2 separate regions of the Homo sapiens genome follow, and region 1 is linked to region 2. The links come from fine-mapping of genetic effects on gene expression. A gene starts in region 2. The other region holds a variant in brackets. All regions are shown on one strand. Distances are between the middles of the regions.

Region 1 (14,478 bases), 110 kb before region 2:
CCTACTGTAGGCCAGGAGCGAGCCTGAGGGCAGAGGTAGGTGTCAGGTGGTTAAACACTAGCAGAAGCCCCTTGCCAGGCCCCCAGGCACCAGGGAGCTTCCTAAGCCAAGCCCATTACTCGGTCTTCCTCTTTCCCCAAACCAACGGGAAGGAAACCCTTTCGTTTTGTAGCAAAATCAACCGCATCCTGACCACATCAAGGGTACAAGTGGGGCAAGGTTAGGCAGACGTGGAGAGTGACAATGCCCTGGTTACTTCCCAAGCTTGTGCGGACAGCCCCGATGACAGGAGCCCCAGCCACAGCCCAGCCCTGCACCAGGCTCTCTAGGTGCACTTTCCTGCTTGAATCTGGGCAACGATCTTGCAAGCTAGATACTCTCATCCTTATTTTACCAATGAGGAAGCAAAGACCAGAGGTTAACTAACTTGCCCAAGGCCACACAGCGGAGCTGAGACCTGTTTCCAGGTCTCTTTTTCCTTTCAAGGGAATTCTCCAGGTGGACCCCTCTTAGGAGCCCAGGCTGGCAGCCTGGCCCACCTACCCCCGGGATACCTGGCTTGAGGAGTGTGATGCCACAGCCACCACCGCCTGCGCCAGTCAGCTTGCTGTGAAGTCCGCGGGCCCTGGTCACCTGGCAGAGCTGGTCCAGAGAGGCGTGGCCCACGCCGAGGGCATTCAGATGGTGCTGGTTCATGTCAATGAGCTCCTAGGGGAGAAGGTTCCATCTGTTCCCACTTGGCCTGCCTGAGGCCAAGGTCCTATGCCCACCCCTGAGCCTGCCTCGTCCATCTGACAGTTGTTGGCTGGAGACAGCCAACGGCTTTGCCTACCTGGCACCCTGGCCCTCTCCACTTGTAAAAGAATCCTTCTGCCCTGCAGCATTTCTCACGGAGCTTGGGTAGAGCTGAGCATACCTTCACCACAGCAGTGAGCACATATCCTAGGGCTGGTCACAGAAGCCTCTGGCACTGGTGACTGATCAGGGATGGGCATGTGGTCCAAGCTGGGCCAATCACAGCCCTCCCAGGGTTTCCTCTGCCCCTTCCCACTAGAGCTGCTAAAATAATTAACTTCAGACACAAGTCGCCAAGATGACCTATCTTGCCACATGATCAGATATTACGTGGCAGATGGACAGATTCCCGACACATTGTTTCAGCCCCTGGATTGAGCTATACCTGAAGCCATTTACCTCTGGTCTTCTCAGTTGAGAGCCAATACATTCCCTTTCTACAAAAGTCTGGTTGAAATGGATTTCTGCCATTTGCAAGAGAAAAAGTTTCAAATAACATGCCTCCCTACAGCTGCCTTGGGGACTGGTTTCAGAATAAGAACTAGGTGTAACTCCAGCAAGGCCATAAGCAGGGAAACAGCTGTTTGTCTAGGTTTCTTCAGTTATGCAGGATAAACTTCCTGCTCTTTAAGGATCCAACAAGATGCATGTGGATGAAAAAATAAAACTTCACAGCTTCCACTGCCCAGGCACCCAGTAGTTAGATTTCATTTACCAAACACCCACAACGTGCTGGGGCTCTAAGGATGGGTGCCCAGCCACGGTCCCAGCCATCAGGAAGTAAAAACCATGGGATTTGGAGTCAAGTAGGCCTGTGTTCGAGTCTCTGCTCTGCCCCTTTTTGGTCGTGTGTCCTTGAGCAAGGTCTTCTGCACTGGGTCTGTCTCCTGCTTGTAAACCGGGGTCATAAGAGTATCTGCCTCAGCAGGGTGTGGTGGCTCACGTCTTTAATCCCAGCACTTTGGGAGGTCGAGGCGGGTGGATCACTTGAGGTCAGGAGTTTGAGACCAGCCTGGCCAACATGGCGAAACCCCATCTCTACTAAATATACAAAAATCAGCCACGTATGTTGGCGTGTGCCTGTAATCCCAGCTACTCAGGAGGCTGCGGCACGAGGATCATTTGAACCTGGGAGGATGCAATGAGCCAAGATTGTGCCACTGCACTCCAGCCTGGGCGACAGAGCAAGATGACTCTGTCTCAAAAAAAAAAAAAAAAAAAAAATCTGCTTCTTTGCCCTGAGACGAAACAAGGTGAGTTTTCTGTTCAATGCCTGGCACGAGATATGTGCTGTTAGTATTTTTATGGGTACGTTAGCATCATCCCCACTTTACAAAAGGGGAAACAGAGGCTCAGAGAAGAAGTGACTTGCCCACGATCACTGAGCTAGTAGGTACCAAGCTGGCACTGGAAGGCGGGTCTGCCTGACATGAAGCTCCTGTCTACCCTGCCTCTGAGAGCACCCCCTGGCATTCCTCACTTCCGTGTGAAGCTCTGTTCCGGGGCACCTGGATTGCCTGTATACCAGGAGTTGCCAATCACTGAGGCATCTCTGCGGAGGCCCACCTAGCTCTCCCGCATGGGGATGGCCGGTCAGGCAGGGTTGGAGTGGCCCTCCCCAACAGCCTGCCTCATACCTCGCTCTGCGCCAAGCTCACCATTTTTGACAAATGAGCAGACAGGCATGATGGCCTGGTGGCAGCCCCGGGTGCCTCTCACCAGCCTGATGGGCTGGATGTGAGAGAAGACTTCTGGGGGCCGCTCTCTGCGCCTGAGCACCAGGTGTCACGTTGCCGAGGCAGGTTCCAGACACCTGTCACATTCTGATCCAAAATCTGTCAAGGATCAGATGACAGGTTGTGACACAGGAGAACAGTTCGCTGGTTTGAGTGCAAAGCTGTCCAGGAGCTGAGCTGCACATTTCAGCGGCTGCCACAGCCAAAAATACACACAATGTATAATCAACGTGCTGTTCTGTGGCATTCTCCAGGGACTCGACAGGGTGTATTTTAGGCAGTATTCTATCATTATTGATTTCCTACTCGGGGGGACTGTGTTCCCTCCTTTCTATGTGGAAGGAATTGAGAGCTAGGAAGACAAAGACTGAGGGAATGAGGGCCGAAACACAGGAATTCGATGGAGGCGCTGCCCTGGCACATAGTAGGTGCTCATGACAGATCTGTTGAATAAAGGGACAGACCAGTCCGTCGGCTGGACCCCTGGCTCGGCCACTCACTAGCTGGATAACCTTGGGGGAAGTCTCTCTTCAGGCCTCAGTTTTTACATCTGTAAAATAGGGATAAGACACCTACTTCACAGGGAGGTGGGTGTGAGGATCAAGTGAAAAGAATCATTTGTAAAAGGCTTGCTTTAGTGGCAGCTTCCACTCAGCACAGGGGCTACAGACTCGAATGCCCACGGGGGACCGGGAGACACCAGGCAATGACTACAGAGTGCGGGGCGCGGGGAGGGACTGTGGTGACATGGAGACCGCACGCCCCTCTCCTGTCCCTTCACTGACGGCTGCTGCACAGCCACGGCAGCTAGGGGCCACCCGATCCTCTCATTCTGCAAGGGCAGCCAGATGGCTAACAGCCCATATTCACCAGGCCAGGTGGACTGTGTCCAGGGGGAGCCTGGGCTCTTTGGTTCCCTAAGCTCATAGCACACCAGACATTGTGCTTGCGTGTCACCCATGAGACTCCAAGCATTTTTTGTGTGTGTGTGAGACAAGGTCTCATTCTGTCGCCCAGGCTACAAACTTGACCTCCTGGGCTCAAGTGATCCTCCTGCCTCAGCCTCTCGAGTAGCTGGGACTACCGATATGTACCGTCATGTCTGGCTAACTTTTGTATTTTTTGTAGAGACAGAGTTTCACCACATTGCCCAGCCTGGTCTCGAACTCCTGGACTCAAGCAATCCACCTGCCTTGGCCTCCCAAAGTGCTAATACTACAGGTGAGCCACTGCGCCCGTCTAATCTGAGCATTCTTAAGACACTCTAGCGAGGCCACACGTCCAGCAGAAGTGGAGCTGGGATTCACACACAGGCCTGATCACACCCAAAGTACCAGGTCACAACCTCTACACTAGAATTATGCAAATGGCAGTGGATGGGGTTGCAATGATGAAAAAACAATGTTAGGATCTGTCTGACCCAAAGCAGGCAGTTGACAAGTAGTTGTTGAATGCACCCATGAAGTTAGCAATAGCAGGAGAGTGACCAAGAAGTCACCCCTGCACCGACAGAGCACTCTGCATCAGCCACATCCCCATCTACCTACGTGGGCCAGAGCTCCTTAGAAGTGACCCAAACCTGTTTCCATTGCACTTAGCACGAGCCAGGCCCTGGCCTCCCTTGCACTCTCCCAATTACTCGGAATCACCCAGGAAGAGGCCTGAAAATAAGATACGCTTATATGGCACGCACAGACCTGGGCCCAGCTGAGAGCATAGGCCAGAGGCAGGTCCTGACCTCTATGTGCTAGCTTCCGGGGGATTCTGAGCACAGCCAGATTGCAGAGCCACTGCCTTGGACAGTGGTGTGGACTCAGTAACCCCGGTTCCTGCAGACAGGCTCTTACTTCCAGCACGAGGTACTGCTCCGGGGCTGGGGCTTCCCCCATCTCTCCCAGCACGCGCTCACACTCCAGGGAGATGGCATCTATTGAGGTCAGGAGGGGGGCCACGATCTCTGGGAACTGGAGAAAAAAAGAAGGAACGGCTGGTGAGGCCTGGGGGCAGGCAGATGCAGGACAGCTGCCCCAGCAGTGGGGTGGAGGGAGGAGGTGTTCACACAGCCCGTGCCCATCCTCTGGGGAAACCACCTCTCTTCTGAGCCTGTTTTTTTGCCTTCCCAGCTGCAAAGTCAGTGTGTCTAACGAGCCCGACCACTGTCATTTTCCTGGCCAGGCTACGGGCACGGACGGTACCTTCTTTTCTGCCAAAACCACCTCCCTAAGGGCCCCCACCACCCACCACACCCCCTATAACCCATCAGCCAGAGGGAGACCTCGAAAATCCAGATGTAATTGTGTCCTGGCCTTCCTGAAACCTGCCCAAGAAGGGAACAAGAGTCACCTTGAGCAGCCTGTTTCTGACGCCAGCCACAAGGGCCCTGGTATTGCGAGGGACTTTGGTGTTGGTCAGCAGGATCTGGAGAGCTGGCGACCTGCAGGGTGAAGAGGAGGCAGGTCCACACTGAACTCAAGATGGAGGAGCTGGGACAGGACTGGGAGCAGTCCGGGAAGCCGCCCACCCTGATACGGAGGAAGAAGGGAGGCACAAGAGGTGACACTGGATTGGGGGAGCATGGGGCTTCTGCTGCTGGCCACAGCTGCGCCTCCATCCCAGGCACTGGTTGGGTGGCCATTCTCCCTTGGCTTTTCACTCATTTATTCATTCAACTTCAACTGGGACCTACAACATGCTAGGCACAGCGTGGCCTTGGGGCCGGGGCCAGAGAGGGGATAGGGGAGAAGGGCCGAGAAGGTTTTTCTGGCATGACGTGGACACTGAGAACTGAGGAAGGGTAAGAAGCCACCAAGCAAAGCTAGAAGGGTGAGGATTTCTGGCAGTTGGAGCAGCCTGTGTGAGCCTGGAGGTGGCGGAACCCGGCACAGTCATCCAGTGAGAAATTCAAAGTGGCTATAGCAGAGTACAAGGAGGGGGCGAAGGTTCACTTGTGTGGGTCACCCCCACGAAGCTGGAGTTTTAGAAAGACCAAGCAACAGGCCCTGAAATGGATCACACAGAGGGAAGATGCCCAGGCTAGCTGGTGCGGGCAGTGCCACGCACGGGCTCGTAAATGCAGGGAGGGCAGGGTTGCAGAGGAGGATGGTCCCCAGCACGCTGAGCCCATTCTTGCCCTACCTCAATGGTGCCCGGACGAGCAGCCCTGGTCTAAAACCAGATGTAGAGTCAGTCATCCCCTTGGCTGCCCTCTGGCACATAGACGTGTCCCAGGCAGCCACGTTGAGCTGACTCTCTAGCATGACCCCGTGGTCCTCACCTGCCCCAGAGGAGCTGCATAAATCCCTCCTAAAGCCACAATCCCAACTGTCCTTGTAGTGAGCCGTCTTCGAGGGCTCAAGCTGACATTTCTTGCCATCCAACCTGCCTTTCAGAGGGCTGCAGGCTGGGATGGAAGGTGGGGGATTTGGATGAGCTCTGGCCCGAGACAGCTGGAGACGGGCAGAGCCCTTGATACCTTTATTCGCTGTCTTCACAGTTCAAGATTGTAAAATCCAATAGGGCTGGAAAGGGCTGCCAGAAACCTGCTTTATCTCACTGCCCATAAGCCCATGAAATTAATATCGATTCTCAGCCTTGGAGGCTGGCTTTTTTTTTTTTTTAACTTTACAAAAGATGAACATTCTATTTGGCTTTTCTCTTCCCTTCTAAGACAAGCCATTCCTCAAAAGGGCAGCGTTCTGGGAGGCCGCATCTTGATCCACTTCACAAACAATGCATTTTTTCTTTACAGAGAGGCACCACGCATGGTTGGTGGGGGGAAGCTCCTTAAGCCATCCATGGGATTAACGTGGAGTCTGGCCCCCAGCTTCTCTGTGAAGCCGCCATCTGCTCCCGTGGCACCCCACAGCAGGCAGCAAAGGTTGGTTTGCTCCATGCTCCCATCTAGCCAGGCGGGAGGAGTTTGGGTGTTGCATCTTCATCTTTCTTAGACAAGTCCTCTGCAGACAGGCCTGTCACCAGCCCCACCAGATCCAGGGCTCATACCCATCCAGCGGCCACCACGCAGGGGGTAAGCCTGGTAAGCGCTCCTGTGATCCGGGCTTGGCCACTGCCCCAGCCTCTTCTTCTCTCCTCGCTCCCCAGGCTGCTCACTCCACTCAGCCACTCTGACCTCCCAGCTACTGTGTCACACGGCAGGCAGCGTGCTCGTCTCAGGACCTTTGCACCGC[G/A]CTTCCTCTGCCAGGGACCAGCCCCGCCCCATAGCGGCGTGACTTATTCAGGTTTCTGCTCAATGTTCCTTCACCAGCAGCCCCCGAACCCCCATCCAATCGGACCCCTCCTTCTCTTTGTAGCCTCTGACCCTGCCTTGTTTCCTAAAGGTGCTTAAGACTGCCTGATATGCTCTCACAGACAACTGATTTTTTCTCCTCTCCCAACAAAGTATGAGTTCCACGGAGGCGGGGCTTTGTTTTGTTCCCTGCGGAGGCCCCAGTACTCAGCACGCAGTAGGTGCTTAATGATACTTGTGGAAAGGATGAATGAACTCGGCCAGCAAACAGGTAAGCACTTCAGAGCCACCGCTTCTGATTGTATGTTCAAGATCCCCCTAAGTAAACAAGGAGCTGGAGGTCTGGGAGAAGTGACTCACCTGAGGGCACCAGCTGGCAAGTGGGAGAGCTGGACTCAAACCTAGGCCTGTGGACCCAGCGCCTCCGCCCAGCACACCAGCAACGCCTGGCCATTCCCCTGGCCGTTCCCCTGCCCGCCCCCCTTGGAAACCTCCTCATTCATCTCCTGATGCCCCCAGTAGACCGTACACTCGGTGCCCAGCCCACGTCTTCATCAGTTTTCTAGCTCCAGGGCCTAGTCCAGTGCTTAGGCCACAAGTGGCTCTCAGGAGACACTGAAGGAATGAAATGCCACCACTTCCATGAATGATTCCCCAGGCTCGCAGCCAGATCTAAGACGCCTGTCACTGTCACCCACAGCAGCTTCACAACCCTTCAGGTGTCTTCTCTCTGACGATTCCAGTGACCGCCTTCCCCATCAGACCGTGGGCTCCTGAAGACAGGCCGGGGCCCGGGCATTTGAGACTCCCCCACATGATCCAGCTCTGGTTCCACATGGATCCGGGGCGGTGGCAGACCAGCTTCACCTCGGCACCCGAGGCTCTCCTGACGACTGCTGGAGCAACCCGAGGAAGCTGTTCCACGCTCCTACTGGCTTCTGCGGAGTGCAAAGGTCGGCGGCAAGGGTGATTCTGCCTCCCAAGGGACACTAAGCAATGTCTGGAGATGTTTTTGATTGCCACGCTGAGGGTGCTACTGGCATCTAGTGGGTAGGGGCTGGGGATGGCTACAATGCACAGGGCAGCCCCACCACAAAGAATAACCCAGCCCCAAATCTCAATAGTGCCAATGCTGACAACTCTGACGTACAGCCTTGGAAAGGGAGGCATGACTGAGCTGGGACAGAAAGATCCCAGAGAACTAGCCGGGGGCCCAGGTGTGGCGCTGTGGCAGGCCAGGTTACTGAGCCACTAATGGAGTGGCCCAGCTGGTGGGGGCTGCAGGCCAGGACCTGCCACTCATCCATGAAGACCGCCCTGAGTAAAGAGGAGAGAGCCCCAGGACCCTTACTGATGCGAAAAGGCCCATGGAGGTGGCAAAGTGCCCTGGGACAAACACCACCCCACAACTTGATCAAGGGCTTAGGGAACAGTCAAAAAGGCACCTGGCTCCCCTCTGCCATGCGTTTCATTCCAGGCACCCAACAATTCTGCCGTGGGTGCAAACAGAACAGAGGATGCTGAAATCGCAAACAGAACAGAGAATGCTGAAATCGCACATGCACGTTTGTGATTCCAATGATTCCAGCGGGAGGGACACAGAAACATAAAACAGGCTGAGAGTCTCCAAATGTCACTTCTGCTCCAAGCCCCTCCCAAGCCTCCCTCCCGCTTCCATCCTGCCTCTGCCCTGTGTGCCTCCATCATGGTGACTCTCACATTGTCCTGTGGCGGCTTTTGTGTGTGTCTGGCCCCACCCCCACAAGCAGACTGAGAGTCCTTGGAAACTGTACCCAAGCTTCATCTCTCCATTCCTACGCCCCAGTGCAGCATCATCGGGAACACAGGAAGTAATGGATTCTTGTTTACTAAGCAAATACAGGAATGAATGAATGAGCAGCTGAGAGTCTACGGGCACAGCCATGCATGACTTTCCCTTTCTGATATCTCTGCAATTTAAGAGCTGAAGGGGAGAAGGAGAGAGCAGGTCTTCCCCACCACCCCTGCTTCCTTGCAGCTAGTGCACTGTGAGGGCCACATTGGGGGATGAAGAGCCAGGGACACCTGCCTCCTATGGTACTTCCCAAAGGTGCAGAGCTCTGCCCCCTGCACACATCAATGCAGCCATGGCTGAATGTGCTGCTCCACCCCCAGGTTACCTCTTTAAGGATGAAATCTTCCCTTGATGGTATCGGAGGGCTCCTCCTAAAGAGAAAAACCAGTGGGTCAGAGCTGTGGGAAAAGCTAACATATCTGTGCTACTTGGGAGAGAGGTTGAACTTTGGGTTGGGTTCATTTTGCCCCATTCAGGAAAGAGGCTAAGTAATGAGTCAGCCCAGCTTCAGTTACAAAAGGTGCAGGAGGGCAAAAGGTCCCCGAAGCCCCACCAGGAAGCTCTTGCCAGGCCTTGGATTCCTGGGTCCCCCTCCCTCCAGACTGTCCAGCTTCCCCCGACAAGCCACATGGTGAAGGTGGGGCCCAGGACACAGCATCTGGGCCCTGTAAGCAAGAGTTCTTGCCAGAGGGGAGGCCACCTGGATGGTGTGCAAACTCCACGGCAACGGCTCTGCATCCTGAACCTACAACTCTCTTGGGGAGCTCGTGGAAGCTGCAGCTTCCCAGGCCCCAGTTCCACCCCCGGAGATTCTGATTCAGGGGGTGTGAGACAGGGCCCCAAGATTTCTCCCCATTCCCCCCAAAATAGGAAAATGCTATTTTTTCCAGAATCCATTGATTCGATTCCTCCCAAACCAGCACAGACTCTTGGGCACCTACCATTGTAATAAGAATTTTTAAAATAACAACAATAAAATAAACCTGAGGCCACACCTACCCCAGGTGCTGACAGCATTGTCCACTCCGGAGGGGTTCCCGTGAATCATTCTCTCCCCTTGGAAGGCCCACTTGTTAATTAGCTCCAAATCCTCCTTGGTCCACCTGAAGACACAGATGTTCATCTTTACTGTGGCAGTGAGGAGTGGGGCTGGGGAGGGGTCACCTGGGGCTGTGCTGGGCAGGCCAAGGGGCATAGGAGCTTGGGCCCTTGAGCTCAGAAAGAACAAGTCCACTCTGAACCTCTCCAGCTACGGAGCGTGCCAAGTGTGCGCCCTTCCCTCTGAAGCCCACCTGGCGCAGTCAAAACAGCCTGGGCTTTGGACTCCCGTGGTCCTACTTTGCCTCTTTTTTTTTCTTTTTTTTTGAGACGGAGTCTCACTCTGTCACCCAGGCTGGAGTGCAGTGGTGCAATCTCAGCTCACTTTCTCCCGGGTTCAAGCAATTCTCCTGCCTCAGCCTCCCGAGCAGCTGGGACAACAGGTGCACACCAGCACGCCCAGCTAATTTTTGTATTTTTTAGTAGAGACGGGGTTTCACCATATTGGACAGGCTGGTCTCGAACGCCCGCTTTGGCCTCCCAAAGTGCTGGGATTACAGGCATGAGCCACCGCACCTGGCCCCTGCATTGCCTCTTACTAGCTGAGTGACTCTGGGCCTGTTATCTAACCTCTCTGAGCCTCATTATCCTTCCCTGGAGAATTGGAACCCCCACCCTCCTCAGAGGCTAGCTGCATGTGTGTCTAATGATGGCAAGGTGTCCACAAGCAGCAGGTGGCAACTGCCACTATAACAGACCTCTGCATAAGCGTCCACACCTGAACCAAGCCTGCCTTTAAGAAGAACGGGCAGAGGTGTGACTCTTTCCCAGGGCCCTGCAAGTAGATCCAAAGCACGATCATTATGAATTCAAATCCCAGGAGCCCCAGAGACCCCTGGAGGGGCCAGGCTCGTCCCAACCATGTCTGGATCTCTCCCAAGCACGTGGCCTCACTGCCTTCCATGGACCAGGTGTGGGCTCACAAACAGTTTAAATGAACAGACCCAAAACACATGAGTATGGAACAAGACAAAATGATCAACCCCACTTCCCCACTCTTTTCTCTCAGCTTTTGTTTCCTTTCTGCAGATTCCCTTCCTCATGAAACAGCAGAAGCTAAAGGTGGTTTTCTGACCTCTGAGAATGATGTGGCTCAGTGGCAGAGTTATGGAGTAAGCAGTCAGCCTAGTTTTGTTTTTTTGAGATGGAGTTTCGCTCTTGTCCCCCAGGCTGGAGTGCTGTGGCACGATCTCAGCTCACTGCAACCTCTGCCTCCTGGGTTCAAGCGATTCTCCTACCTCAGCCTCCCGAGTAGCTGGGATTACAGGCGCCTGCCACCACGCCTGGCTAATGTTTGTATTTTTAGTAGAGATGGGTTTTTGCTGTGTTGGCCAGGCTGATCTCGAACTCCTGACCTGAAGCGATCTGCCTACCTCAGCCTCCCAAAGTGCTGGGATTACAGGCGTGAGCCACCGTGCCCAGCCAGTGAGCCCTTTTTGGAGCCCATCCTATCACTGACTCACTGGGCATCTGTGAGCAACTGCTTCACCTTAAACCCTGTTTTCTCATCCATAAAACAGGGATAATAGTGTCTATCTCACTGAGGATATTGAGATGGAAAAAATACACAAGTGCTTTGTGTAATGCCCAGGAGATAGGATGTGCTCCCCTCAAAATAGGCCGTCTGGGGTCACAGCGCCTGGGGGCCTGGTTCAATCACTTACTTGCTGTGAGCCCTGAGCAAGTCAATTACCTGCTCTGAGTCTCTTTCTTCATCTGCCAAATAAGGATTTTTACGGACTTGGCAACTCACATGGTAGCTGTGAGACTATGATTAATAATGAGTTAACATCAGTTAACATACTATTGATTAGCATGTGCCAAACATTGTGCTAAATGCTTTCTCAAATGGACCATTGAGAAATGGTTCATAATCCTCCCAATTGTGCCCTACAGGGAAGGTATAATAATTATCCTGTTTCTTACAGAAACGGAAACTGAGGCTTGGATGGGTCAAACAGCATCCTGGAGATCACAGTGCTACTCACTGCTGGGTCAGGACCACATCTGCTGACTTGGAGCCCAAGCTCTTAGCTACTAACTTAATGGTGCCAACAAGATACACTCACTTATTCATTCAGCATTTATTGAGCAACTGCTATGTGCCTGTGACTAAGCTCCTAGTAGGGAGCAAAACAGACAAGGTCCCTGACTTCTTGGAGCTTAGAGTCTAATGGAGAAAGTGAAGGTCAGAAAGCGATCAGTATTCAAATACAAACAAATCCATGACACTGCAATATGTGACTTCAAAGCAGGTGTTTCTCAACAGGTGCTGGAGAGGATGTGGAGAAATAGGAACACTTTTACACTGTTGGTGGGACTGTAAACTAGTTCAACCATTGTGGAAGTCAGTGTGGCGATTCCTCAGGGATGTAGAACTAGAAATACCATTTGACCCAGCCATCCCATTACTGGGTATATACCCAAAGGACTATAAATCATGCTGCTATAAAGACACATGCACACGTGTGTTTATTGCAGCACTATTCACAATAGCAAAGACTTGGAACCCACCCAAATGTCCAACAATGATAGACTGGATTAAGAAAATGTGGCACATATACACCATGGAACACTATGCAGCCATAAAAAATGATGAGTTCATGTCCTTTGTAGGGACATGGATGAAATTGGAAATCATCATTCTCAGTAAACTATCGCAAGAACAAAAAACCAAACACCGCATATTCTCACTCATAGGTGGGAATTGAACAATGAGAACACATGGACACAGGAAGGGGAACATCACACTCTGGGGACTGTGGTGGGATGGGGGGAGAGGGGAGGGATAGCATTAGGAGATATACCTAATGCTAAATGATGAGCTAATGGGTGCAGCACACCAGCATGGCACATGTATACATATGTAACTAACCTGCACATTGTGCACATGTACCCTAAAACTTAAAGTATAATAATAATAAAAGAAAAAAAAAACAGACCAAGGATCCAGAGCTACCTAATTACATTTAATAAATGATAATATAGTTAAAAAAACAAAAACAAAAACAAACCAGGTGTTTCTGTAAGAGTACGATGGGCTGAATTGCTGGGGGCTGGGGCGGGGTGGTGGTGCCTGAAGGACAAGGGGAGCCAGCTGGGCAAGGTGTGTGTGTGGGGTGCATTCCAGACACACCACTTGTGCAGCACTGGAACCACACCAGAGCTGGCTGGCCCTTCCCAGGGACCAACAGGTGGCAGCGTGCCTGGGATGAAGTGAGTGATGGAGGCGGGGGAAGGTAACTCAGGCAGCTGACCTAGCCCAGGGCCTGGCCCTCTCAACAAATGTGAGTCTTCCTCCTGCTCTACACAGTTTGTTTTTTAGGGGGCTCAGATTTGAGTCTTCAAAGGAGACTGGGCTCCAGTCCTTTCCGACTCAGAAACACATGATGGGTGGGGTGTGGTGGGGTGGGGTGGGGTGGGAGGTCTACTCTCCCTAAGGGTTCTGAGAAGGAATGACTGGCCTTCAGGGGAAGGTGGGAGAAATGGTTAGAAGCAGCATAAGAACACACACACATGCAAGTGCACACACACAGTCACCCTCCACCTTTTGAAAGACAGGGCCAGTCCTTTGGCCCGTGGAAAATCACTTGAACCTGGAGGCAGAGGTTGCAGTGAGCCAAGATCACACCACTGCACTCCAGCCTGGGTGACAGAGCGAGACTCCATCTCAAAAAACAAACAAACAAACAAACAAACAAACAAACAAAAAAACCAAGCTCAGAAAACAAAACAAAACAAAACAAAAACAAGCCCAGGAAGAGGACAGAGCTCTGCATTTGGGGGCCTCATCCACAACTCCTGGTCCTGGGACAAACTGCGTAACCTCTGCGCACTGGGTGGTTTCTCAAGGAACATTCTCCTAATGATAGAAATGGTCTGTGGTCAAGCCTGTCTGGACAGGCCTCACTGACTCACGTGGTCAATAGGAACGCAGAGAGGTGACACGCCCTCCGTGGAGACGGCCCCGTAGGAGGAGAGATGCCCTAGTCTAATGGGCACACCCCCTAATGTGGATTTCTCAGCAAACTCTTAGTTTCTTTCATAACCATGTGGTAAAACTGGACAATCACCCCTAGGGCACTGTCATTACCATACAGAGGAGAACACTGTCCTAGCCTGAGTCAATGCAGAGGTGGGAGGGTTCATCTAACCTGCTGCCCTCTAGATCTGGACTCCAGCTCTTTCTACCATACCATGGGCGCTTGAAACCAACAGAGCCAAGATGGGGGTGAGCAGAGGTGGTGGAGAGCAGGAGAGAAAAGCTCAGACTCTGAGTTCAAATCCCACTCTGCCAGCACTAGCTGTGTGGCCCTGGGCCAGCCATTTGACCTCTCGGGGCTCAGCTTCCTCATGTTAAAATGGCCACTATGACACCTCTCACCTCACAGGGAGGTGGTGAGGTCTCAGTGAGAGAAGCCACGTCCCTGTCCTGCCGTGCGGGAGGGACACTGGCCAGGTAAGGACCATGGTTACCTGTTGACGCAATCCCCGTCCTTCAGCGGGTTTGGGATCTCCTCGCACACAGTCAGGAGGGCTGCTGCCAGACACACCGAGTAGGCGGCGCTGGAGCCCAAGCCCGCCCCGGGGGGCAGCTCCGACCACACTACGATATCCAGGCTCGGCAGGGCCCTGAAACACACCAGGGTGTGAAACGTGACTCTCCCGCAGGGCAGTGGGGTGCCAGCACTGAACCAGGGGCCAGGCCCAGGCCTGACTCCAAGCATCTGGTCCAGTTTTCTCAACTGGGGGAGAATTCCTGACCCCAA
Region 2 (16,877 bases):
AGGTTGGCCCTTAAGAGCTTGTGGGAGACACTGCGGCTCCCGTCCACTTACCTTAGGCTCATTCTCAGCATCCATGCTGCTCAGGATGCTGCGACACAACTTCTCAAATCTCTGCAAAGAGACACACTGGGGGTTATACATTCCCACAATCCATCAAAAAGTGAAAACAAAGAAAACAAGCCTTCAGCGGGTACCTGGCACGTGCAGGTATTATGCCAGGTGATTCACACATAATCACATGCAGTTCCTTCCTACAGATGAGGACACTGAAGATCATAAAGACTAAAGGGTTCTCCAACTGGTGGCCCAAGAGCTGGAGGAACCCTATAGAAATGTTTTAGAAACTGGTATACTTCACATAAAAACCCAAATTGAGGCTTCTTTCAAAAAACAGTATCAATCTGGCAAACTGGATTTGGATTCCTGCAGGCCTGCTGCTGTCTCCTCAACTGTGCTCTCCAGTTTACCTTTTCTTAAGCACCATGGATACTGACTTTTGCCTCACAGCCAGTAGCCAAAGGCTGCTGTATCATCACTTTTATCCTGTAATGCAAAAGGAAGAAAAGTGGAAACTAGAAAACAGGTTCCATTTTGGCTATACCAATCCTGGATCCGCCCTTAAACCATGTGATATTGGGCAAGCTGCCCTACCACCCTGAGCTGCAGTTTCCTTCTCTGTAAGATGAGGTTCACCTCCTCCAGCTTATCTGTCCTCATCTACGTAATCATGTGTTCACTGCCTGCATAGTCCTCCCTCTCTTGCTGGGCTATGAGCTCCATGAGCGTAGAGATCTTGCCCGTCCTGTTTCCTCCCAAGGGCCCAGTGCCTAGAGAGGGTTGGCACAATGTGAAGCTTAGCAATAGGAATGCCTAACAGCCTAACAGCTGGTAACTTGGAGACATGCCTCAGTGGCATTGTTAGTACTATTACAGATAACTAGCTGCTTTTCTGGGATTACACTTTTCAGGCTGATCATTCTAATCCCTAAGGTGCAAACTGGCACCTTTTGTATGATTTGCAGGATATTTAAAAAATTTCAAATTAATTGCCAAGATTTACAAATTAGAACATTGATGGTAGCTCACGCCTGTAATCCCAGCACTTTGGGATGCTGAGGCAGGTGGATCACTTGAGCCCAGGAGTTTGAGACAAGCCTGGGCAATAAGGTAAAACCCTATCTCTACAAAAAATACAAAAACTTGCTGTGCATGGTGGCACACACCTGCAGTCCCAGCTACTGAGGAGGCTGAGGCAGAAGAATCGTTTGAGACTTGGGAGGTCAAGACTATAGTGAGCTGTGATAGTGCTACTGCACTCCAGCCTGGGCGACAGTGAGACCCTGTCTCAGAATATGAAAGAATGAATGAACGAACATTGAGCATAAAAACTCAGATCTTTGGCATCTCTTTAAAAAAAAAAAAAAAAAATCAGAGGCTGGGTACAGTGGCTCACGCCTGTAATCCCAGCACTCTGGGAGGCTGAGGCGGGCAGATCACAAGGCTAAGAGATCGAGACTATCCTGGCCAACATGGTGAAACCCCATCTCTACTAAAAATACAAAAATTAGCTGGGCGTGGTGGCACGAGCCTATAGTTCCAGATACTAGGGAGGCTGAGGCCGGAGAACTGCTTGAACCCGGGAGGTGAAGACTGGCAGTGAGCCAAGACTGCGCCACTGCACACCAGCCTGGCGACAGAGAGAGACTTCATCTCAAAAAAAAATCAGAGTATGAGTCCACCACCGAGGTGTGTAGTAGCTGCTCCCCGTGGATGGGGCAGGCCACAGACCCTGCTACTCCTTTTGATGTCCTTACCACTGCTGCCTGTCAGTTACCGTTTAATATGATTTGTATTTTGTATTATGTTTTATCTCATATATGTTTTTTTTACTCATTTACCTAAACTTCCTGACTCTTGCATGCATCTGAGTTCAACTTGTGCTTATAATGGTCAATGTGAAAAGATTCCTAAAAGCACTGGGCATAATCCCTCCAAAACAGGTCCCAAGAAAACAAAAGGGACAGGATGTGAGGGTGACAGTAATTACCTCATAAAGCTGCTATAAGAACTGAGTTAATATCAATAATTATAAAAGATCTGACATATGGAAGTATTATACATGTTTGCTATTATCGTTTTACCTCATTATCCTCTTTGATTCTGAATAGGAACAGCAGTTTCCTGGCAATCTTGAAAATACAAAGTGCACTTCTTTTAGTGGACTCAGGGTCATCTGCTTTAAAAAAGTCATCAATCTCTCTCCTAGAAAAGAAAGTGCAAAAAAAGACATTTTAAATTAACAGCTTGTAGCACCTGGAAGGCTTTTCAAGCACTTTATGAGAAAAAACTCATTTATCTGCTATTAATTGGGAGCCAGAGAATCATGTGCTAGGGAGATCCTAGCCCTTACCTGATATCTCTCTGCAGTCGACTCCGACAGAGAAAACTCCGGACATGGGCCTGGATCACAACAGCTGCCCGCTCCCGTTCCTTCTGCACAAGCCTTTCTTCTCGTGCCTGACGGGCTCTATCGATGAACCATGCTCTCGAGGTCTGAGACAGGGTGAACATGTTTGCAAACTTGCACAAACCCTGCAAGGAAAATGGGCAAGTGGGTGTTGTAGATTGTTGTGTGAAAAACACACACAGAAAGGGGCTCAAGAGCAGAGGGTGGGCAGGGACCTGGGCAGCAGAGATACTCAGGACCTGTCAACACCCTCCAAAGCGCTAACAGCTCTCCGGCACAAGTCCCTACCTCCTATAGGCTCTTTCATGCAACTCACCAAGACCAGGGATGCTACATCCTATATTAAATAATCACATCTTCTTAAGGGAAAGAGCACAGCACCTGGCATAGGATAAGGGCAGGCCCAGCTTTACGAATGAACAAAGAATGAATCAGTCCCACCCATAAAGCTCTAATTCAAACCAGGTATCCTATAGGTCAAAGATTCCCAGATATTTGAATTTTCTGGAGTAGTCCACAGTATTTGGGAAACCAAAACTGAGAGGTCAGCTTTTATTTTGCCAAGTAAGGACTCGAGAGAAAAATCCAACATGATTATTTGCTGTCATCATCATTGTATTCATCCATTCACTAAACAAATATTTACCAGTGCATACTTTGTGACAGCACACAAAAAAGAAAGGGCCATTTCAACATTAACAAAGCAAAAGGTACACACTTCAGAATGCAAGACAGTCCATTATATTGAAGATATTTGGTTTTATGTATAGCTTATTCCATTGTCCTTACAATTACCATCCTGCCAAGGACCAGTGAAGACTTTACTGTAGAACTGGTCCTGTCCACTAACGGGTGCTTTTCTGAAGAGCAGCTCTAAATTATATACTAAGTTTTTATCTAAATCACCAGTAACTGTTTTTTCCTAAAGGAACAGCTTTTGCTAGCAGCCTAAAGCACACAGCACTGACCCCCGGAGGCTCCCATATTGAGATGATTTCTTTAGATGCTTGATGACATTGCCATTCTATACAAAATGCACAATCAGCCCAGTTAAAAACACTGAAATGAATTATTCAGAAATCCAGACTTCCAGAAAACAATCTCTCTACCAGGCTACTTTACTTGAAGTAGCACCCACATGAAAATATCATCCAGAGTAAAAAGTCGGATGGCTAGAACTAGGGGCCATCTATCCTAAGTGAAATAACTCTGAAACTGAAAGGCAAATACTGCATGACCTCACTTAGAAGTGGGAGCAAAACAATGGGCCCACATGGACAAACAGAGTGGAATAAGATAATGGAGACTCCAAAAGGTGGGAGATGGGACAGGGGTAAGGATTGAACAATTATTTATTGGTACAATGTTCACCATTCGGGTGATGGGTGCCCTAAAAGCCCAGACTCCACCATTACACAATATATGCATATAAGAAACCTGTACCCCCTACATCCATACAAAGAAATTTAAAAATTATTAAAATAAACATTGGACTTAATAGTATTATCTCCTAGAGGTATTAAATTAATTACGTGTTATTGAAAGGCATTTAATAAGTGTGCTCTATTATTAGTATTAATAAGGACAATAAAATAATACCCTTTTATAACCAAAAAAAAGTTGGTGCAAGCCTCCCACCACATGAACATATCAAGGGACCTCTGTGACCCCTTCTCAACAGTGATCTGTCAAACATCATCAGTAATCCTTGAAACAAACTAACAGAGCCCACTTGACCACAGGAGGGAAGGTATTAGGTTGGTACAAAAGTAATTGTGGGTTTCAACTTTTTTAAAAAAACACTAAGTCGTAATTACTTTTGCACCAACTTATAAAAGGCTTGGAGAGAAACGGTAGCCATCTTCTGAATCATTTACGCTTCCTGCCCCAGCAGTAAAGTCTGGAGATCTCACCTGAGGACCTGCCTGTGTCGCAGAAATGCCAGGTAATCATTAGTGATCTTGCACAGGACTCGTGGCTGAGAACAGCTTCTCACTTCAGAAAAGCTTGTTATTTTTTCTGGCAGAAGCAGAAGAAAAAAATCCAGACTTAGGGTTAAATTTTATAGGTGTGGTATCATACATCTTCCTCACTGAGTAAAAGTAGTAACTACAATGCCAATGGTTTTTTAAAAACACCACTGGGTCCTCTTTATTTAATGTCTCATCTAAATGTTATACTGTATCTCTTCAATCCTCACAGTTTAAAGGGAATATGTTGAAAATAAATCCCAAAGTTGTTGTTGAATTACAGCTGTGATGGGAAGCAAAATAACTTAGAGGTCATGGAATGTTAAAGAGCTACTGAAAATTATATTTGACATTTTCCTTTTTTTTTTTTTTGAGATAGTCTCACTCTGTCGCTGAGGTTGGAGTGCAGCGGCATAATTTCAGCTCACTATAACTTCTGCTCCCAGGTTCAAGCGATTCTCCTGCTTCAGCCTCCCAAGTAGCTGGGATTACAGGTGTGTGCCACCATACCCTATCTCAGTTGGGGTTACAGGTGTGAGCCACTGTGCCCGGCCATGTTTGACATTTTTTTTTTTTTTTTTGAGACGGAGTCTTGCTCTGTCGCCCAGGCTGGAGTGCAGTGGCGCGATATTGGCTCACTGCAAGCTCCGCCTCCCGGGTTCATGCCATTCTCCTGCCTCAGCGTGTTTGACATTTTTAATGATAATGGAAAAACGTTTATGCCTTAGAAGTGAATAAAGGGCTGCCTGTGGACCAATAAGACCCCAATTACCTAAAGAAAAATGTACACACACACAGATACAAAACTAGCATGAACTATACCAACATGTTACCAGTGGCTGTTTTGAGGTACTGAAATTGCGGGAAATTTTTCTTAATTGGTCTGTATTTTCTAAATTTTCCACAGCATGCACATGGTGAAGCAGCACTGCACAGTGAGGGGCACACGGGCTTTGGGAGTCACACAGAGTTGGAGCCAGTCCCTAGCTCTGCCACATACTATAGGGAGAATGTCTAAGTCTTTTTTTTTTTTTTAAGGCAGGGTCTCGCTCTGTCATCCAAGCTGGAGTGCAGTGGTGCAATCATGGTTCATTGCAGCTTCTACCTCCCAGGCTCAAGCGATTCTCCCACCTCAGCTTCTCAAGTAGCTGGGACCACAGGTACATACCACCACATCTGGCTAGTTTTTAAATTTTTTGTAGAGGTGGGGTCTCGCTATATTGCCCAGGTTGGTGGTCTCAAACTCCTGGGCTCAAGAGATCCTCCTGCCTTGGCCTCCCAAAATGTTAGGATTACAGGTATGAGCCACCACACTGGGCCCTGAGTCTTTCCATCTTCATCTATTAATTGGCTTAGAGGTTGATAATGAGGACTAAATGTGATGATGCTTATCAGGTACCTATGGAGGTACTTGAGTGCACATTGTAGAGTGTATAGTCAGGAAGTCTAACTGGTGTATTATTTTTATAGACACAAGGATTAAAAAAAAAAAAAAACTCTTCAGCAGAGGCTCCCACCTGGACAGTTACTAAGGTTCTCTGGGTAGGAAATAATGCTGGCAGTCTGACATTTCTCACCCATTAACTTTTTTCCTATCTTAAATGCACTAAGATTCACCAGTCCTGTCCCTTGGGCTATGAACTCCTGGCCCTGTTGTTTAGAGTGAGTAACAGATTCAAGCTCCTCAGGACTGCAAAAGAGCAGGGCCCAAGCCACAAGCACAATGATATGCTCCCTCCATGACATGCAGACAGTGCCTCAATGGCAGAGGGTCCATGGAATTAGAAGGGGAAGAGGGAGCCTCTTCCCAAAAGAAAAACAAAGTTGCATGCAAACTGTACCTAAGCACTGTAAGACGATCTTAAAACTTTCACTTCTCCCAGGGGCCCTCCCAGAATAAGAAATTACTCTTATCCCCTTCCTTGAGATTATTATCCCTTCAGCAATGTTATTGGTTGATTTCTGTTCATATCATATAATAGCCTACACTTTACAGTTTTTCTCATCCTTTCCTATATACCTTCTCCACCTGCACAGTGTATACTATAGTTCGTCAATTAATAAAACACACAATCAAGTGTTTATTAAGTACTTATTTTGCTAAATGCCATGGAGAACCAAAGAAAAGGCTGTGCGCAGCAGAAAAAGTCTTGCATCAGAGAAAGCGGGCCTTGGTTCTTTTTAGTACTCCTTCTATCCGACATTTGGCCAAGTTACTTATCCTCTCTAGGCCTCAGTTTCCTTATGTGTAAATCGAGGGTAATAATAGTGTCTATGTCCTAGGGTTGCTGAAAGGATTAAATGCAACATTTATCCTTCTTGTACCTCAATTTAGTCATCACAACATTGTGATTAGGATTAAATGGGAAAATATTAATATAGGATATCTAAAAGCATGTAGCATGTAAGTGAGCTTTATTGTATTGTCCTTAAGAAGCTTGCAATCTAGTTAGGGAAACAAGAATCATATAGGTAGAAAGATTAGAAAATAAGAGGTTGGTGATAACCAAGATCATTTAAAAAAGTAAATGAGTGCCCATTATGTGTCAAGTCCTTTATAAGTGATCTCATCTAATAAGGAGAGGAGTCCTATGAGAAGATCATTCATGATCTCATCTACTCCAGTCTAGACCATTAGTATGTGGCAGAGTCAAGGCTGTAATAACTAAGAGGCAGGATTCAGACTCTTGTCTTACCTCTATATTTCCAAAGCTGAAGCATCATAAATACCAACTGCTGACTAAGCCAAGAGGATTGTCCCTGTGCAGTAGGAAAAGCTGGGCCACCAGGTTTAATGACCACCACCACTTGTTCTGGGCAGACGGTGTATCAGACACTGCACAGATTATTTAACCAACTTGTCTTTTCAACAGCTCTATCAGTTCTCGATAATCTTTGTTTTTTTGAGACGGAGTCTCACTTTGTTGCCCAGGCTGGAGTGCAGCGGCGCGAACTCTGCTCACTGCAACCTCCGCCTCCCAGGTTCAAGTGATTCTCCTGCTTCAGCCTCCCAAGTCGCTGGGATTAAAGGCGCCCGCCACCACGCCCGGCTAATTTTTGTATTTTTAGTAGAGATGCGGTTTCACCATGTTGGCCACGCTGGTCTTGAACTTCTGACCTCAGGTGATCCGCCCGCCTCGGCCTCCCAAAGTGCTAGGATTACAGGCGTGAGCCACCGTGGCCAGCCTCAATAATCTAATTTTTATTTAAAGAATAGGAAACACGACTTAAAGAGACTATTCATATTAACAGCTACTATTTATTGAAAGCTACAGCCTATCTAAGGTGGATGCTTTTGAATCTGAATCCATGTATATCCAAAACAGTTATTTATCACTAAGTAAAACAAACAAGATCCAGGGCTCCCCCGTTCACAGAATGGCCAAGCAAAGAGAAGTTGAGAGTGCAAGATTGCCTGTGGGGGCTAAGCTGGAGTTAAATTACGATCAAGTTTTTCTTTATTCAGAACTAGGTGTCAGGCACGGTACTAAAACGTATTCACACCCTCTGTGAAACCTGCTAATTACTCCATTTACACAGAAGGAAACTGAGGCTCAGAGAGGTGAGGGAACTCACCCAAGGTCACACAGCGAGCGAACAGTATTCGAACTCCAGTTTAGGTGAGTCCTGGGGCCCAGAGTCTTTCCTCGGCATCAACAACCACAGGAACAAATCACCCAGCATTAGTCCGTTTATAAAGGCCTACCGTCCCCAAAGTGAAAAGAGGTGGAAAGGGCCGCGGAAAGAGCCCCTGGAGCACACACGCCAGATCCCAGCACTTGTTCCTCCGACCTGGCCAGGCAGGGACTGTGCCCTAGAGCCAACTCCCTCAAAGTCCCCAGCCCCACCACTCGGAGGACTGACGACCCAGTTCTCCCGCAGGCCGGACCGCAGGCCCTACCGGCCTACCCGCAGGCCGACCTTTATTCGCCGGAGGTCCCCGCACTTGGGGTCGGGGCCGCAGCTGCCACTGTCTCAGCCCAAAACACCCGAGTTCTGCCAGACCCGGGGCAGCAGCCGACGCACTACCGCCATCTTGCCCCGCGGTGTTCGCTTTCAGAACCCCGCCAGGAAGCAAGCATCCAGTTCCGGAAAATGACAGTTCCGCAGAGCTTCTTCGCCCGGGAAGGAAAACTTCCCCACACCTTGCCTCCCCTCTGGCAGCTGAAATAGCGGAGGTGGGATAAATGCCCTCCCCAGCCGAGAAAAGCTGGAACCCACTCCGGCCGGGGAGGCTGGAAAGAAAACTGGCCCCTAGGCGCACAACGGACGGCTTAAGACGTTGCCCTCTGCGGGGCGGAAGTGGGGTGCGGACAGCGGAAGTTATCGCTCCGGCCCCGCCTCCGCCCCCGGCTGGCGTGAGCTGGGTGTTTCCTGCCTCTCTCAGTCCGGGTTTGGAGACTCCTGCGTCCTCCGACTTTTCATGGTAGGGAGGGCGGTGCCCATGGACTAGGGGTTGAGGGCGGCCGAGGGAGCTGGGCAGCAGCAGAGTATAAGAAGGGACCGAGAGGAGGGGGTGTGATGAGGGGCAGTCACGATAGTGGAGAGGCATTTGGGGGATTGGTTAGGGGAAAGGCCCGGGGTGGGGGAAGGGCTTTGGGTGGAGAATTAGGGGCGGGGGTGGTGGTAGGGAGGCTCCCTGGCGGTTAGGAATCCGGGAAGCACATTTGGGCTTGCGGAGTAGATACGTGTGTGCGTGAGGAAGGGGTGTCTCCAAGTGAGTCCTGAGTGCTGGTTGGAGATGGGAGTTGGTGATTGCGAGGAGAACAAAGAGATATCAATTGAAAACGGACATTTGGGGGTGGAAAATGAGGATTTGGAGGATTATGAAGGAGAATGAATGGGCAGGTTATGAGAAGGTGAGGTAGGATTCCTTGGGGCGGAGCGTTTGGCGTTTTGGAGGTTGTGGCTGGAGTCGCTGAGTTTCCAGGAAGTGGGGAAGGGGCTCCCAGGTGCGTCTGAACACACGGCCCAGTGAGGGAAAGAAATCGAGAGAGCCCAGCAGGCTGATGTGCGTTCAGTGCTTGGAATCCTGGGGAGAGATGCCAGGGGCCTGAGGTTAGGATACCTGCGCCACGGAGTTCAGTGCCTCAGCTGGCGCCTGGGTACCTATCTGTAACTTCCATTGAGGCCAGAGGTGACCACGCCTAAGGAGCGGAGGATGTTTCAAGATCTGTCTCTCAGCTGTGGGGTTTGTCTGCTTGGGATCCTCAAGGGTCTGTTCCCTGAGTAGCTCATTGTCCCTGGGTAGAGATGACCAAAGATTGGCCCAGATCTTCTTTCTACTTGCTTGCTTGTTTGTCACGTCCCTGGAAAGTGCAGTCTTAAGGGAAAATCAGTCCCAGTGACGCTGCTGAAGAAAAGTCAGTTATCCTGTAGCTGACGTTGACTAGTCCGCTCCATTTTGTGCAAAATAAGGACCAGCGGATGGGAAGAAGGCAGCATAAACCAGTGGTTCTCAAACTCTGGTCCCACCAGCAGCAACACCTGGTAACTTATTCAAAATGGCTGAAATTTCAAGCCCTGTCAGAGACTACTGAATCAGACATTCTTGGGGTGGAGCCCATCTATCGGTTTTAACAAGCCCTGCAAGGGATTAGACTAATGATTTCTTGATTTGGACTGTGTAATGAAAGGGGCAAAGGAGTTGGGAGTCAGAGGGCTCTTATAGGTGTGATTCCTAGTTTTCTCCCCAAAAAAGTGGGGTTGATGATAAACATCTTTCTCACTAGAACATTGAGAGAAATAGACCAAGAGTTTGTGTATTAAACACAGGGAGAGAATGTCATTTGATGGAAGTTGCAATTGGCGGTAGCTGTCTTATAAGCAAATTTTGGATGTAAAATGCTGCAATTATGTGACTTAGTTTAGTTGAAATGTAACAGCAGACTTTTCTGAGTTGTAGAAATGCCCTCAGTTTGGGAAGGTTTTATACAAGCCTCAATACAGTGTTTCTTAAACTTCTTTGCTGTAGGAATCCCCTGAGGTGATGCTTTGCCTCACATCCCTGGCAACTCTTAGATAAAGCTGGTTAAATACCTTAGCTAGGTGGCAGTAAGCCCTGGTCCCACATCCGAATCCCCCAAAGAGCTTTTTAAACACTAGTGACTGATCAGCCACCCCTCCGCATCTCTGAGATACTGATTAATTGATCTGGGGTGTAGCCCAGGCAAGCACAGGTGTGTGTGAGTTTGTTTTTGTTTTTTGGAGACAGGGTCTTGCTCTGTCGCCCAGGCTGGAGAGTGCACTGGTATTATCTTGGCTCACTAAAGCCTCACCTTCCCTGCCTCAAGCAGTCCTCCCACCGCAGTCTCCCGAGTAGCTGGGACTACAGGTGTGTGCCACCATGACCGGTTAATTTTTTTTTTTAATTTTTTTGTGGAGATTAGGTCTTATGTTGCTCAGGCTGGTCTCGAATTCCTGGGCTCAAGCAATCCTCCCGCCTCAGCCTCCCAAAGTGCTGGGATAATGGGTGTGAGCCACTGTGCCTGGCCTGGCATCATGTTTTTTAAGCACACGCAGGTGATTCTAGTAGCCAGGGTTGGGAACCACTGATCCCAATGTTTGAGACGCCCAAAGGAAACTACACAAAGGACTAGGTGCCAAATGCTTTAACATTCATTCTCTGAGGGTTTTGAAGATTATGGCTTTAACACTCCATTTTACAAGTTAGAAAACTGAGACTTGGGTTAAATTGCTTGAATTTCACGAAGGAAATGGTGGAACTGGATTGCAATCCAGGTTTGCCGAGACTATCCCGTTTTCCTTAACACACACACAGGCACACAAGACTTCTACAGAGAAGCATATAGAAAACGTGGGGTCAGGGATTTGGTGCGTTTTTTCCTACTGTACTTGCCTGAGCCTCCTTTTCAGTCGATGATTTTCCCCCTTCAGCTGATTTTTGTATTTTCATGCATGCATACAGTTGCTTCCTCCCTGTGGCTCTGAAGCTGTGAAGTGGGGGCTGGCTTTGGTTTATGGTGTTTTGGTTTGTTTTTAATGTGTCAGGTCAGGAATTCACTGGGCCAAGACCGTGGAGTTAATGGTAGCTTAAATAAGGGGTACAGTGCTTTTTAGAATAGTGGGCTCTAATCTTGGTGGGCTTTAAAATCTCCTGAGGGAGTTTTAAAAATTCTGTTGCCTAGTCCACATCCCGGACCAATTACATCAGAATTTTCATGGTAGGACCTAGGTGTCAGGAGTTTTGAGCTCCCAGCTGATTTCGATTGTCACCAACTGGAGAGCCACTGTTTAGAATCAGCAACATTATATTCAGGGGAGATGGAGAGAAGAGAGACTGACCATTTAACTGGAATAAACTTCTGATTGAATCAGATCCGTAGCCAGTATCTCAAGTATTCATTGCCTCTCTGTTTCATGTAACCAATTTTGCTGTCTCCTGCTTCACCTCCCCAGCTTCATTGGTAATGAAATCAAACCTTTGAAACAAGTCAAAAAGCAGGATCCTGGCCAGGCACGGTGGTTCATGCCTGTAATCTCAGCACTTTGGGAGGCCGAGGCAGATGGATCACTTGAGGTCGGGAGTTCGAGACCAGCCTGACCAATGTGGAGAAATCCCGTCTGTACTAAAAATACAAAATTAGCCAGTCGCGGTGGCTCACACCTGTAATCCGAGCACTTTGGGATGCCGAGGCAGAAGGATCACCTGAGGTCAGGAGTTTGAGACCAGCCTGACCAACATGGTGAAACCCCATCTCTACTAACAATATAAAATTAGCCAGGTGTGGTGGTGCATGCCTGTAATCCCAGCTACTCGGGAGGGTGAGGCAGGAGAATTGCTTGAACCTGGGAGGCAGACGTTGCGGTGAGCTGAGATCGTGCCGTTGTACTGTAGCCTGGGCAATAAGAGCAAAACTCAGTCTCAAAAAAAAAAAAAAAAGCAGGATTCCAGTAGCAACAGTGGGGAGAGTCCTCCCTAGAGAGGTTTGCTATGGTGGGGGTCTCTGGTCCACTGCCTCGTGTCCTAAGTTCACTGTAACTTGGGCTCAAGGACACGAATGCTGCCAAAACTTTTCCCCCAAGGGCCTTGCCTACTATTAGGTTGACTGACCTTTGGAGAGGGTGAGCTCTGAAAAGGTTTAGAGCTTTTGTTGCCTAATCTGTAGTCTCATTCTAGATCAGGATGGCTCCTGCCTTTATCTCTTAGTCATGCCGTCTGCCATTAGAGCTGGAAACAGTTTCCAAAGAGAAGATAGTTTGAGACTTCGGGAGCATTCTCAAATCATCATAATTTGAGTGTTTGGAGTGTTTACTCAGAGCTAGGGAGCCCTGTGAGGGAGGTGAGGCTTTTGGCCCTGGACACAGCTACTAAGTGGTAGGGCTGGGGCCTTATGCACAGGTCTAACTCCAAACCCTTAGCCACACTTTACCTCGCGACTATTTTCAGGGCTTTTTGTACTTTTTAAAGAAGGGAGGTGAGGCTGGCCTTTCTCAGCTTATGTATCATAGCTCTCAATCTACTAGGTGTGATGGTCTCTGGGCCAGCCACCACTTGCCCATGTCCTTCACTGGCCCCGTCACTGACTCAACTCCAGCTTGAGAGTGACTGACCCTGATGGGGCTGTGGCATCCAAATCCACAAAATGGAAATAACTATAGCTGTCTTCCAGCATTGTTTGAATTTGTAAAAGGCATGTGGTAGAAATGCAGTGGTCAAGGGACACCGAGGGGCTTTCTGGAGGCATGGAAATGTTCCAAGACAGCTTGATTGGAGTGGGGGCTACACAGGTGCAAGTATTGACCAAAACACATCAAACTGTACACTTAAAGTATACTTCATTATGTGCAAATTATCTTTAAAAAGGTATTGGAAAGCCAAAAAAGGTACAGTCATGCGCACATAATGACAGTTTGGTTAGTGACAGACTGCGTATATAACAGTCCCTTAAGATTATAATGGAACTGAAAAATTCCTGTAGCCCAGTGATAGTGTAGCTGTCATTTCAGTGGTAGCACAACATATTACGTGTTCGTGGTGATGCTGGTGTAAACAGAACTACTTTGCTGCCAGTTGTATAAGTCTAGCACACACAATTATGTACAGTACATAATAGTCGATAATAGTAATGAACTTGATAGATATATCACTGGTTAATGTATTTACTATTAATGGTTATTTTAGAATATACTCCTACCTGCCTTTTTTTTTTTAAGTGAAAACTGTAAAACAGCCTCAGGCAGGTGCTTCTGGAGGTATCCCAGAAGAAGGGATTCTTACGGGAGATGACAGTTCCATGCGTGTTACTGTCCCTGAAGACCTTCTAGTGGGACAGGATGTGGAGGACAGTGATACTGATAATCCTGACCCTGTGTAGGCTAGGCTAATGTGTGTGTATTTTGTAGTTTTGGATAAAAAAGTTTAAAAAGTAAAAAAAGAGAAAAAAGCTTATAGAATAAGGATATAAAGAAAGAAAATATTTTTGTACAGCTGTGCAATATGTGTTTTAAGCTATGTTATTACAAAAGGGTCCAAAAGTTAAAAAAAAATTAAAAAGTTTTTAAAGTAAAAAGTTACAGTAAGCAAAGGTTAATTTATTATGGAAAGAAAAAATATTTTAAATAAATGTAGTGTGGCCTCCCTGTGCAGTGTTGATAAAGCTACAGTAGTGTACAGTAATGTCCTAGACCTTCACATTTACTCACCACTCGCTCACCCAGAGCAATTTCCAGGCCTACACACTCCATTCATGGTAAGTGTCCTATACAAGTATGCCATTAGAAAAAAATCCTTCATATCACATATTTACTGTGCTTTGACTTTACATGAAGTATACTTTATGTACTTTTTTGTCTGTTTCATGATAGGCACCTTCCAAAATGCTAGATCGTTTCCCATAACAAGCATTTATTATATAAAATTAGATCTGAAAGGGGTGCTTAAAAAGTATTTGCATTTTGGGGCAAATTTCCTCAACACACACCCTCACCCATGACCGTAAGCCTTTTCTCCCCCCCTTCGAGGTCTTCACAGTTTTTGGAAACTTTTATTTCCATAAGCTACTCCTGTCATCCCATGGACAAAGGATTTTTCTGAGGGAGGTGGCTGGTCATAACTGTTAGTGTGAGGTCTCTGGGGACTGATTTCAGAGGACAGCTAGAAAGGAGGGGTAACTGCTTCTTCTGGACCTCTTTTGTGTTTGGCATCGGGCAGCAAAGACCCCAGGTGAGCTAAGCCTGAGCTTTTGAAAACATATTTTCTTGTGACTTTTCTTGATGAAAAAGGAACTGTTTCTTGAGAAAACATTTCTTTCCAGGAGGCCGTTCTTTCTCTGTTTCACTCTGCAGGGCCCTGACATGGCAGGTGATATCCAGGCCACTGTTGGGTGCCATGGAGTTGGGGAGAGTTGGCCAGAAGAGTTGGATAACCTTGAATTGAATATTGTCCATGACTGTCGCGTTGCTTCTGCTGTTGCAAGCTGCCTCCCTTTACTCCCAGTCCCATTTACAAAAATAACGTTTGTGTTTTACCAGTTATAGTTGTAGTACCCATTCATTATAGAAAATCTGGAAAAGCTAGACAATTCTTTTTCAGTTTCAGGGAATAGTTCAAACAAGTTATGTGCTGTCAGTGCCCTGCAGCCAAAAAGCACGAGGAGCATACCTGTAGTCAAGCAAAGTTGGGTTTATTTCCTTGTTGCATTGGGGTGGGGAAGAACTGTGGGACATCTCAGAGAAGGGCTGTGGGCTTGTGTTGGGTGATTTGAGAGACAGTTCAGAGAAGTGGGGCTTTGCTCTGTGTTGGATGCTGCTGGGAAGCAGGGCTAATTCTGTGATTGGGTCTCAGTGATTCCTGACTTGAAAGCAGGAAGAATGGAAGGAGGCTAAACCTCTCATTGGTAAAGCAGCAGCTATAACTCCTATTAGCCAGGATAGGGGATCTTTGGTCATTTTTGTATTTTGGATAATGTTTATGTTTTTGTCTGTGTCCGGACATGATGACTGAATGGTCCTGTTTTTGTCTTGTCGCAAGGGCACAGAGTGGCCTTGTCTGAGGGTGATGTGCTGTGAAAAACTGTTGATGTTCAATGGGAATGGTAGGGCCAGCCGTGGGGGCTACCCCAGATTCAGCAAAGATTCTGCCCACCCTTGCACATCTCCACCTCTACAGTTTTACCTGTTCATTTCAGACATGTTTGCTCTGAGTACACATGTGCCGGATACCAATCTCACTTTCCAGGCCTGCGTAAATCAGCCACTGTATCCATTTCTTTGAGATGTACAGAGAGTCAGCCATGCTATCAGGGAGATGGTAGTGGGATCTTGCTCTTTTGGGCAGCACTAGTCTAGGAGGTCTAATTTTGCAATAACTTGGTTCCAAAAGTTTCCATGTCTGTTGTTTAGTCCTCAGAAACACCTTCTCCCTACAGGAAGTGATAGGAGTGCCAGCTGGAATCCCATTCAACTTCATAAAGCTTATTTCATCTGTGATGCAGCTGAAAAATGACACTTAGCTAGCTATTGAGTGGTACATGGCAATAAGGAAATGTAAAGAGACCTGGGCAGTGCTTTAGGCTGTTTTAGGGTGCAGCCAGGGTGTTCATGTATACAGGTGCTAGGCAGAAAGGAAGTGCTTATAACACAAGAGTTAGGGGCACCCTTGTGCCTGCAGGGTCGACAGGCAGGGTCAGTGTATGAGGCTTTTTGGGTGGGTTTTGGGACAAACTAGGGGATGCATGGCCCTCTCTAGGGGTCATCCAATACCCCAGCTCTGACCAGTTGTTCCCCTGCTAGCCCAGTTGGCCTCTGATTTTAGGAGAAGCCAGAAGTCCAGATTTTTCTGTGAGCTCTCCTTAGTTGTCCACATTGGAAGCAAACTTTTAAATGCTGTGTATGCGTGGCCCAAGCAAAACACATCTGGAGGCCAGATTGAATCCACAGGCTGAAAGCAGTCAACCAGGCCTGATGTCATGACCCTGTATCCTCTCCACTGGCAGGAAGAGATGTCAGGAGAAAGTGTGGTGAGCTCAGCGGTGCCAGCGGCTGCTACCCGCACCACTTCCTTCAAGGGCACGAGCCCCAGCTCCAAATACGTGAAGCTGAATGTGGGTGGAGCCCTCTACTATACCACCATGCAGACGCTGACCAAGCAGGACACCATGCTGAAGGCCATGTTCAGCGGGCGCATGGAAGTGCTCACCGACAGTGAAGGTAAGCTCACCCACCATGTGCCTGCCTCTGGCCATGCGTTATGTGGTCAAGGAGGGCTTCCCTGAAGAAGTGACATTTAAGTCGAGACCTGAAGATGTGTAGGAGGCAGCTTGTTGGGGACTCCCACCATCTTGACTTGGTCGTTGATTTGCTATGTTACTTTGAGAAAGTCACTTCCTCACCCAGGGCTTAGCTTGCTTATCTCTGCCATGCTTCTGTGACTTCAGAGTGAAACTCAAGCCTGGGGGAGAGAGAGGTATCTTCCCTGG

The links. PIP is the estimated chance that this variant, and not a neighbour inherited with it, causes the effect.
Region 1: its variant is fine-mapped to the expression of UBE3B in whole blood (INTERVAL, PIP above 0.99).

Annotation. Positions count from the first base shown.
Region 1 is chr12:109,581,258-109,595,735 of GRCh38, reverse strand. MVK (mevalonate kinase) reads right to left here. Exons shown (of 11, transcript NM_000431.4): 5 at 14,186-14,341; 6 at 9,611-9,714; 7 at 8,937-8,982; 8 at 4,875-4,965; 9 at 4,379-4,495; 10 at 555-708. Among named protein-coding and RNA genes, the nearest start is that of MVK, 15 kb to the right of the region's middle. The variant G/A (reference allele first, on the strand shown) is at 6,719.
Region 2 is chr12:109,469,246-109,486,122 of GRCh38, reverse strand. It overlaps UBE3B (ubiquitin protein ligase E3B), which reads right to left and starts at 8,489. Exons shown (of 28, transcript NM_130466.4): 1 at 8,014-8,489; 2 at 4,381-4,486; 3 at 2,411-2,592; 4 at 2,142-2,262; 5 at 52-111. The coding sequence starts at 2,571. KCTD10 (potassium channel tetramerization domain containing 10) reads left to right here and starts at 8,823. Exons shown (of 7, transcript NM_031954.5): 1 at 8,823-8,863; 2 at 16,395-16,608. The coding sequence starts at 8,861. RefSeq lists enhancers at 8,577-8,666, 9,175-9,910.